Linked DNA regions of Homo sapiens: region 1 is linked to region 2. The links come from fine-mapping of genetic effects on gene expression. Tissue or cell type: CD8 T cells. Region 2 holds a variant in brackets; the other region holds the start of a gene. All regions are shown on one strand. Distances are from middle to middle.

The links. PIP is the estimated chance that this variant, and not a neighbour inherited with it, causes the effect.
Region 1: SRRT starts here. The variant in region 2 is fine-mapped to the expression of SRRT in CD8 T cells (Kasela 2017, PIP 0.95).

What each region holds. Positions count from the first base shown.
Region 1 is chr7:100,872,281-100,877,422 of GRCh38, reverse strand. It overlaps SRRT (serrate, RNA effector molecule), which reads right to left and starts at 2,320. Exons shown (of 20, transcript NM_015908.6): 1 at 2,095-2,320; 2 at 1,711-1,850. The coding sequence starts at 1,832. TRIP6 (thyroid hormone receptor interactor 6) reads right to left here. Exons shown (of 9, transcript NM_003302.3): 8 at 4,679-4,799; 9 at 3,969-4,251. The coding sequence ends at 4,120. RefSeq lists a silencer at 1,839-2,068 and enhancers at 2,209-2,268, 2,479-2,528, 2,105-2,770, 2,771-3,435.
Region 2 is chr7:100,901,237-100,906,378 of GRCh38, reverse strand. It overlaps the pseudogene RN7SL549P. Among named protein-coding and RNA genes, the nearest start is that of ACHE, 7.9 kb to the right of the region's middle. The variant C/T (reference allele first, on the strand shown) is at 2,004.

The DNA of each region.
Region 1 (5,142 bases), 29 kb after region 2:
TTTGAGACAGAGTCTTGCTCTGTCGCCAGGCCGGAGTGCAGGGGTGTGATCTCAGCTCACTACAACCTGTGCCTCCTGGGTTCAAGCAATTCTCCTGTCTCAGCCTCCCAAGTAGCTGGGACTACAGGCGCGCACCACCATGCCTGGCTAACTTTTGTATTTTTAGTAGAGACAGGGTTTCACAATGTTGGCCAGGATGGTCTCAATCTCTCGATCTCGTGATCTGCCCGTCTCGGCCTCCCAAAGTGCTGGGATTTCAGGTGTGAGCCACTGGGCCCGGCTGGCTTTTTTTTTTTAACTCTTTGCTGTCACTGCCTTGATGTTTGGTAAAGCATCAGCGGTTTTACCCATCATTGCTATGGCACCAACAGTGGAAATGGCAATAATATGTAAACATTACCACAAAAACTAATTTTAGCCTCGGAGACCCCCTATGGTCTGTGGACATCCTGAGAAACAGGACTCTAACCAAACTAGAATATGCTAAAATCACACGTTATGTCCACAACTCCAAGCTGTTCATGTCACTCGTGTCTGGGGAATTCCCACTCATCTTTCCAAGTCTAGCCAAGTGTCACTTTCCAGTGGGTCCCTGACACACAACCTCCAGCACCGCTCCCCTCCTTTAGAGATCTGTTCCCTCAATGCTTACCCTCTTTATAACTTCCACTATATATACTCATTTACAGAATACATCCACTGCCATTCTGATCCCCCATGCCAAGCTCACTGTAACACCCTAAGGTCAATAACCACATCTTATAATCAATCCAATCAGCACCGCCCTATGAACTCTGAGATTTTAGGCAAAACAGTGACAAGAAACCTAATCATATATTGTCAGGGAAATAATCTGACGACCTCTCCAGTCAGATCAACTCTATATTATTATTTTTCTGAAGCAATCCTCCTAAAATATAATTTACAACCTGGGCAACAGAGCAAGACGCTGTCTCTACAAAAAATAATTTTAGACCAAGCACTGGCTCATGCCTGTAATCCCAGCACTTTGGGAGGTCGAGCTGGGTGGATTACCTAAAGTCGAGAGTTCCAAACCAGCCTAGCCAACATGGTGAAACCCCGTCTCTACTAAAAATACAAAAATTAGACGGGCGTGGTGGCAGGTGCCTGTAATCCCAGCTACTCGGGAGGCTGAGGCAGGAGAATTACTTGAACCCCAGAGGCGAAGGTTGCAGTGAGCCAAGATTGCGCCATTGCACTCCAGCCTGGGCGACAGGGCAAGACTCTGTCTCGAAATAACAATAATAATTTTTAAAAGTTAGGCGGGCGTGATGGCCTCCCCCTGGAGTCCCAGCTTCTCAAGAGGCTGAGGCGGGAGGCTCGGTTGAGCCCGGGAGGTGGAGGCTGCTACGACTGCATCAATGCACTCCAGCCAGGGCAGCAGAACAAGACCCCATCTCAATAACAAAACAAAAAAAAGCAAAAAAGCACGCTTTTCGTGCATGTATAAACAGTGCTTCTTCATACTCAAACTCTTAGCTCTATAGCTCTGATCTGCAGAGAATTTCAAAAACCAAGCCACAGCTAGTTATTTGGCCAACAGCAAATAGGCTGAACCACAGAAAACGGTCCAATGAGCCATTTCATAGGATTCGCCCTCATAAAAATTACAAGGGGGAGAAAGAAAAGCGACGCGGGTGGAGTGAAACGGCATGAAACGGGGACAAGATGAAGTTAAAAACGGCTCACCTGTCATTCCAATCGTCCCCTCGACGTCTTTCATCTCTCTCGCGGGAACGGTCGTAGTCGCTGCGCTCTCTTCTGAACTTGTCCCTGCGCCTTCGATCGTACTCGTCATCACTGTCACCCATGGCACGGTCTGAGGGGGCCTGGGGACCGGGGAGAGGCGGTAGGAGTGGTGCAAAAGGACGAGCGGAGGAAGGGACCGTCCCTCGCGGGCAGCTCGCCCGCTTCCCTCCCGCCAAGGCCAGCCCTCCGCGGCCCCCACCATCCTAGGCCTGAGAACGCGGCTCCAACACCTCCACTCGCCCCGAGTTTCTCCGCGCCCGCCCCCGTGGACCCCGGTTCCTCTCCCGCCCCAGCGGGGCCCCCCAGGCTCCTCCCCTCCCCCACCTTGGTGCGGCCGCGGCCGTTGGACTCGCGCTCGGACGGGCTAGATTTCAGGGCGACCTGGGTCGCGGGCGCGCGACGAGGACTTCGAGGAGGGCGAGACGGAGACGGAGCTCTTGAGTAGAGGGCCGAAGAGAGGCGAACAAAAGTGGGACAACCGGGGATGGGCAGTAGCGCGCGCAGCCCGCGCTGCGCCTGCGTCACCCACGCCTCCGAGGCACAAAGCTCCACCCTCGCGGCCGGAACTGGAACTAACAAACCGAGCGCGAAGGGCGGGGAGAGCAGGGCGTGATGGGAAAGGGGCGGGGATCTCGCAAGTCTCGCGCGGCTTTTCGAGACGATAACGGCTCGAGCGTTAGGAACTACGGGACCTCGGCTGGGCCAAGCGCGGCCTCGGGAGGCGAACAAGCCCTCTGGGCGCGAAGGGAGAGCGGAAGTCGAGGATCGCGCGACCCCAGATGTGTCGGGGTCCTAAGACGGTTCTCATCCAGCCATGTTCCCCCCACGGGCCTCCTGACCTCACCGGGGGTGATTTCGTCCCCTCCTCGGGCAGGGCGTGGGCTTGGGAAGCGCGGGCGCTTAGGGGATGGAAGGTGGAAGCAACCATTTTAAAGCATCGTATCCCACCATTTTCTGCTCCAAATATCCAGCCAAAATTGGGTGCCACAGTGCGCACTAAATGCAAAGTCCGCCGTTCCTGCTTTTCCTCGACAAAGACGCCCCGTCTTTAAGTAAAATTGGCAGATCTCAGTCTTAACCCCGCTCAGTATTTGGATGAAATAGGCTGTAAGTTAACGCCCTAAACAGAGTATGGACCGCCCAGATTCAATGGATTACCACCCCCGGGAGTAACACCAAGGCCCCTCTCAGTGAATTGAGTGTGAGACTTAATAGGAAGACCAGCTGAGATGGCTCACGCCTGCAATCCCAGCGCTTTGGGAGGCCGACGTGGGAGAATCACTTGAGCCCAGGAGTTGGAGACCTGCCTGGGCAACATAGCAAGGCCCCTTTACAGAATATTTAGGGCCAGGCACATTGGCTCACACCTGTGATCCCAGCACTTGGGAAGGTCGAGGAGGGAGGACTTAAGCCCAAGAGTTCAGGACTAGCCTGGGCAACATAGCAAGATCCCATCTACACACAAAAAAATAATAACTGGGCTTGGTGGGATGCCCCTGTGGTCCTAGCTACTGGGGAGGCTAAGCCAGGAGGACTGTTTGAGCCCAGGAGTTCAGGGCTGCAGTGAGCCTTGATTGCACCACTGCACTCTAGCCTGGGGAACAGAGTGAGGCCCTGTCTCAAAATAGATACATAGAGGAAATCTTGCCTCCTCCCTGAGGCGTGCTTGCTCCCAGCACTGAGAGGAGGGTAGTGACGGATTACAAGAGTTGTCAAAAAAAACTGGACCTGAGTCAAAAAGACCCAGGTTCCACCATTTAAGAACCATGCAATCTGGGGGAGTCACCTCTCAGCTCTGACATCCTCACATGTAAAAATGCAGACAGTGGCCAAGGGCGGTGGCTCACGCCTGTAATCCCAGCACTTTGGTTGGGTGAAGCGGGCAGATCACTTGAGGTCAGGAGTTCAAGACCACCCTGACCAAGGTGGTGAAACCCCGTCTCTACTAAAAATACAAAATTAGCCAGACGTGGTGGCGGGCGCCTGTAATCCCAGCTACTCAAGAGGCTGAGGCAAGAGAATCACTTGAACCTGGGAGGCAGAGGTTGCAGTGAGCCGAGATGGCACCACTGCATTCCAGCCTGGGTGACAGAGCCAGACTCCGTCTCAAAAAAAAAAGAAAAAAAATGCAGGCAGTAACAATGACTGGGCCTGTAATGGGCTACTGGGAGAATCAGATGAGACAACAGACTTGGAAGTGTTTTGTAAACTCGAGGGATTATTATTTCTTGATTGGAGAAAGAGAAGACAGCATTTGGTGACAAAGTCATACAGGTGGATGTCAGGGAGAGTGATCAATCAAAGGATGGGAACTGGAACTGAGAACCCAGCAGGTACTTCTAGGAAGACTCAGCAGTCAGTGGTGACGGTGGCTGAGAGCTCCTGGATGCGCCAGGCGCTGCAGGCCTTGCACAAGATGTGCCCATCCAGCGGGTAGCAGCCCTGACACTCGCCCTCAGAGGAGAGCAGCAGCCCACACTCCTGTTGAAAAAGAAGCAACAATTGGCCGGGCGCGATGGCTCACGCCTGTAATCCCAGCACTTTGAGAAGCCGAGGCAGGAGGATCACAAGGTCAGGAGTTCAAGACCAGCCTGGCCAATATGGTGAAACCCTGTCTCTACTAAAAATACAAAAATTAGCCAGGCATGGTGGCCAGCACCTGTAATCCCAGCTACTCAGGAGGCTGAGGCAGGAGAATCACTTGAACCCGGGAGGTGGAGGTTGCAGTGAGCCAAGATTGTGCCACTGCACTCCAGCCTGGGCAACAGAGCAAGACTCCGTCTCAAAAAAAAAAAAAAAAGAAAGAAGCAACAGGTTTCCATCAACCCCAGACCTCTGTGTTCCCCCTCATGCTCTACCCAGCACCCTAGACACTGCCAGCCCCTTGCACGTGCTGGGGGCCCCTGACCTCGCACTTGTAACAGCCAATGTGAAAACTTCGATCCAGAGCAACAATTCTCACAGTCTCCTCCTGACCTGGCTCAGGCATTATGGCCCCACCGCACACTGAGCATCTTGGGGCAAACTTCCTGCAGGGGAAGAGAACCAAGAAGGCCATCAAGCCTTGGGGTTGCAGGGCACCAACAATGGAACCCAGAGAAGGTGGGGCACAGGAGGGAATCAGAGAGGCCAGAGGTATGGCCTTAGGTCTTGGGGAAGGGACGATGTCAAAGAGAATGAGAGAGGCTAGGTGCAGTGGCTCTAGCCTGCAATCCCCCGACTTTGGGAGGCCAAGGCAGGAGGATCACTTGAGGCCAGGCGTTCAAGACCAGCCTAGGCAACACAGCAAGACGCTGTCTTTATTAAAATACAAAGAAGAAGACTGGGTGCAGTGGCTTACGCCTGCTATCCCTGCACTTTGGGCGGCCGAGG
Region 2 (5,142 bases):
TCAAAACTCCCTGCAGATCAGTAGTAGGATTGTACCTGTAAATAGCCACTGAACTCCAGTCTGGGCAACATAGCAAGAGCCCCTCTCTAAAAAATAAATAAATAAATAAAATTAATTAGAAATCCAATTCCAGAAGTTGTAAAACAAACAATAAAATAAACCTATAAACCTGAGAGAGCACATAGACGTTAATAAAGATAAGAGCGGAACTTAATAAACCGGAAAACTGGAAAACACATGAAAAGATGCTCAAATTTCCTCATAATAGAAAGTAGGCCAGGTGCGGTGGCTCATGCCTGTAATCCTAGCACTTTGGGAGGCCAAAGTGAGTGGATCACCTGAGGTCAGGAGTTCAAGACCAGACTGGCCAACATGACAAAACCCCGTCTCTACTAAAAATACAAAAATTTGCTGGACATGATGGCACATGCCTGTAATCTCAGCTACTCGGGAGACTGACACAAGAGAATCAGTTGAACCCGGGAGGCAGCGATTGCAGTGGGCAAAGATTACACTGAGCCGAGATAGCACCACTGCACTCCAGCCTGGGTGACAGGGCAAGACTCTGTCTCAAAAGAAATAGGAAAAATTAAGCTAATTAAACCCTTAATGCTTACTGAATTAAATATATTAATTTAAAAATTAATTAATTTTTAATTTTTAAAAAAATAAAGTAACTGGCCTGGTGCAGTGGCTCACGCCTGTAATCCCAGCACTTTGGGAGACCAAGGCAGGCAGATCACGAGGTCAGGAGTTCAAGACCAGCCTAGCCAACATGGTGAAACCCCGTCTCTACTAAAAATACAAAAATGAGCTGCGCATGGTGGCGCGCGTCTGTAATCCCAGCTACTCAGGAGCGCGCTTGAACCTGGGAGGCGGAGGTTGCAGTGAGCCAAGATTGTGCCACTGCACTCCAGCCTGGGTGACAGAGCAAGACTCTGTCTCAAAAATAAATAATAAATAAATAAAGTAAAGCTGTACTGAAATACCATTCACCTCTTAAATGGGACAATTTTTTTTGTTTTGTTTTTGGAGTTTGTTGAGACAGGTTCTCACTCTCTCATGCAGGCTGGAGTACAGTAGCATGATCACAGATCACTGCAGCCTCAAACTCCTGGGCTCAAGCGATCCTCCCACCTCAGCCTCCCAAGCAGCTGTGACTACAGGCACAAGCCAGCACACTCAGCAATTTTTTATTTTTTGGAGAGCTGGGAGTCTCACTATGTTGCTCATGCTGGTCTTGAACTCCTGGGCTCAAGCGATCCTCCCACCTCAGCCTCCCAAAGTGCTGGGATTACAGGCATAAGCCACCACATCCAGCCAATTTTATTTTACTTTTAAATATACTATGTTGGCAAAACTATAGGCAACCAATAACTAGTGACCCAGTAATACATGTTGAGGAATTTATCCCAGGGATATACTTGCAACACTGCAAAATTATTTGTGCACTAAGTTTGTAATAGCAAGTAACTGAAAGCAACTTAAATGCTCATCAGTAGGGGACAAATTAAATTATGTTACTTTCAACTGGGCAAGGTGGCTCATGCCTGTAATCCCAGCACTTTGGGAGGCCAAGGCGTGCAGATCACCTGAGGTCGGGAGCTCGAGACCAGCCTGACCAACATGGAGAAACCCCGTCTCTACTAAAAATAAAAAATTAGCCGAGAGTGGTGGCACATGCCTGTAATCCCAGCTACTCAGGAGGCTGAGGCAGGAGACTCGCTTGAACCTGGGAGGCGCAGGTTGTGGTGAACTGAGATCGCACCATCGCACTCCAGCCTGGGCAACAAGAGCAAAACTCCGTTTCCAAATAAATAAATAAATAAATAAAATTATGTTACTTTCATGCAATATAAAGTATGCAGCTTTTCATTAAACAGGCAAAAAATAAAGAATGAGGGCCAGGTGTGGTGGCTTATGCCTGTAATCCTAGCACTTTGGGAAGCCAAGGCAGGTGGATCACTTGAGGTCAGGAGTTCAAGACCAGCCTGGCCAATATG[C/T]AGAAACCCTGCCTCTACTAAAAATGGAAAAATTAGCCAGGTGTGGTGGCAGGCGCCTGTAATCCCAGCTACTTGGGAGGCTGAGGCAGGAGAATCGCTTGAACTCTGGGGGGCGGAGGTTACAGTGATTGGAGATCACGCCACTGCACTCCAGCCTGGGTGACAGAGCTAAACTCCGTCTAAAAAAAAAAAAAAATGAGAAAGTCTATGATGTACAAATCTGGAACTATCCTTAAGATACACTGTTAGCTAGGTTTCTTTCTTTTTTTTTTAAGTCAAGTACAGAAGAGTGTGTAAAGGATGCTACAATTATGTAAAAACATGGATTCAGGGCAGAAAAATACCTGTTGATGATATATGCATGTACCTGTTTGGGCTACAGAAAAAAATGAAGAAAAAAAGTGGGTAATATATGCAATATAGGACCACAGTTAACACTGCTTTAGGAATGAATACTGGGTCGAGGAAGGCAGGGAAGAGGAGAACTTTTCACTTTATACGTTTTCAATTTTATGAATTCACTAACTGTCCAAATAAATAAAATATAACTTTTTTTTTTTTTTTTTTAGGACAGGGTTTCCCTTTATCCCCTAGGCTGGAGTGCAGTGGCACGATCTCAGCTCACTGCAGCCTTGACTTCCTAGGCCCAAGCCATCCTCCCACCTCAGCCTCCTGAGTAGCTGGGACCACAGCCACGCACCGCCGCACCCAGCTAATTTTTGTATTTTTGGTAGAGAAGGGGGTCTCCCTATGTTGCCCAGGCTGATCTCAAACTCCTGGGCTCAAACGATCCACCCACCTCGGCCTCCCGAAGTACAGGGATTAAAGGCATGAGCCACTGTGCCTGGCCCAAAATGTAACTTAAAAAAGGATATTCCCCAGCCAGGAAATAACTTCTCCCCACTCATCTAAGATCTTTCCCCTCTCATTTCCCGCCATCACTGTTGCCTGCAGCACAGACATTTGTTAAGTGCGCCCAGGACGAGGATGGGAGGGTGTCACAACTGAATGAAAGTAGGGAAGCCAGGCGCGGTGGCTCACACCTGTAATCGATTCCAGCTACTCAGGAGGCTGAAGGCAGGAGGATCGCTCAAGCCCAGGAGTTCAAGGCCAGCCTGGGCAACATAGCGAAACCCTGTATCTATCCAAAAAAAAAAAAAATAGCCAAGCTTGGTGGCATGGGTCTGTAGTCCCAGCTACTCAGGAGGCTGAGGTGAGAGGATCCTTTGAGCCCAAGAGGTCAAGGCTACGGTGAGCTACAATCGCACCACTACACTCCAGCCTGGGTGACAGAGTGAGACCCCCATCTCTTTTTTAAAAATTAAAAATTTAAAAATAAAGGAGGAGGAGTCCCGCCCTAGATGCAGAGAGCCCCCAGATGTTCTGAGCTGATCCATTTTCTGCTGTAGCTCCCATGTGTCAATGGCCCAAAGCTTCCCAGCACAGCCCCAGCCCCGACCCTGGCCCTGCTGGGCACCTCTCTAGTGAGGAGGGGAGGAAGCACCTGCCACTGCCCACATGCCACCACTCTAGGACCCCAGGGTTCCCCACCCTCCCCTGTGGCAGAGCCCCAGTCTCTAAGTCAGTTAGGGAGAGGAAGGGTAGGGAGACAGGGCAGGCGCAGAGAGGGGCTAGGAAGTAATTGTCATCTCAATATTTAAACTCGGGCCGGGCGCAGTGGCTCATGCCTGTAATCCCAACACTTTGGGAGGCCGAGGCAGGCAGACCACAAGGTCAGGAGTTCAAGACCAGCCCGGCCAACATGGTAAAACCCCGTCTCTACTAAAAATACAAAAATGAGCTGGGTGTGGTGGCACGCGTCTGTAATCCCAGCTACTCAGGAGGCTGAGGCAGGAGATTCGCTTGAACCCGGGAGGCAGAAGTTGCAATGAGGGGAAATCGCACCACTGAACTCCAGCCTGGGCAATAGAGTGAGACTCTGTCTCAAAAAAAAAAAAAAAAGAGGAGGAAGAACTTGGGGGAGAATGGGAGGCAGAAGATAATCATCTCCCAGGAAGCACAGGGACTTGGGCAGGGACCCCCACCCCGCAACAATGCACACACCCCACACCTCTCTCCTTGGAAGGGAGGGGCCAGGAGGGCCTGAGAGACTCTACTTGATTTTCCAGAAGTTACAGGAGAGAGTCGCTGCAAAACAGCCCAGCCCATCCAGGTCAGAGTTCTCACCCAAAGTCCAAAGCCTGCAATTTACCAGCTGATGAAACGAAACAACCTCTGTATGATTACCTGTATGTTAATGCCTCTGGGCATCAGTTTCAGTTTCCCAGCTGTTAAATTGTACTAAAAATAGCCTGGGTGTGGTGGCTTATGCTCATAATCTCAGCACTTTGGGAGGCCAAGGCAGGTGGATCAGCTGAGGTCAGGAGTTGGAGACCAGCCTGGCCAACAGGGTGAAACCCCGTTACTACTCAAAATGCAAAAATTAGCTGGGCGTGATGGCATGCGCCTGTAATCCCAGCTACTCAGGAGGCTGAGACAGGAGAATCGCTTGAACCCAGGAGGTAGTGAGCCGAGATCACACCATTGTACTCCAGCCTGGGTGACAGAGTGAGACTCTATCTCAAAAAAAAAAAAAAAATTGTAATGAAAATACAGCCTACCCACTGGGGCTGGGCGCAGTGGCTCACGCCCGTAATCCCAACACTTTGCGAGGCCGAGGCGGGCGGATCACCTGAGGTCAGGAGTTCGAGACCAGCCTGGCCAACATGGTGAAACCCCGTCTCTACTTAAAATACAAAAAATTAGCCGGGCGTGGTGGTATGCACCTATAATCCCAGCTACTCGGGAGGCTGAGGCAGGAGAATCACTTGAACCCGGGAGGCAGAGGTTGCAATGAGCCAAGATCATGCCATTGCACTCCAGCCTGGGCAACAAAAGCGAGACTTCGTCTAAAAAAAAAAAAAAAAAAGGCAAAGAAAATACAGCCTACCCCATTTGAATGCTACAAGTGAGAATTAAATGAAATGATATTTAGCAAAGCATTCAGGAAGCGGCTGGCAAACAAGCTCTTCTTCCCCATACATGCTACTGTGAAAGCAACATTGGATCTGGGCTACTCTTCCACTCCACCCTGTTGTCCCCAGTGTTGTGGACATTTAAGGGATCCAGCTGACCACTG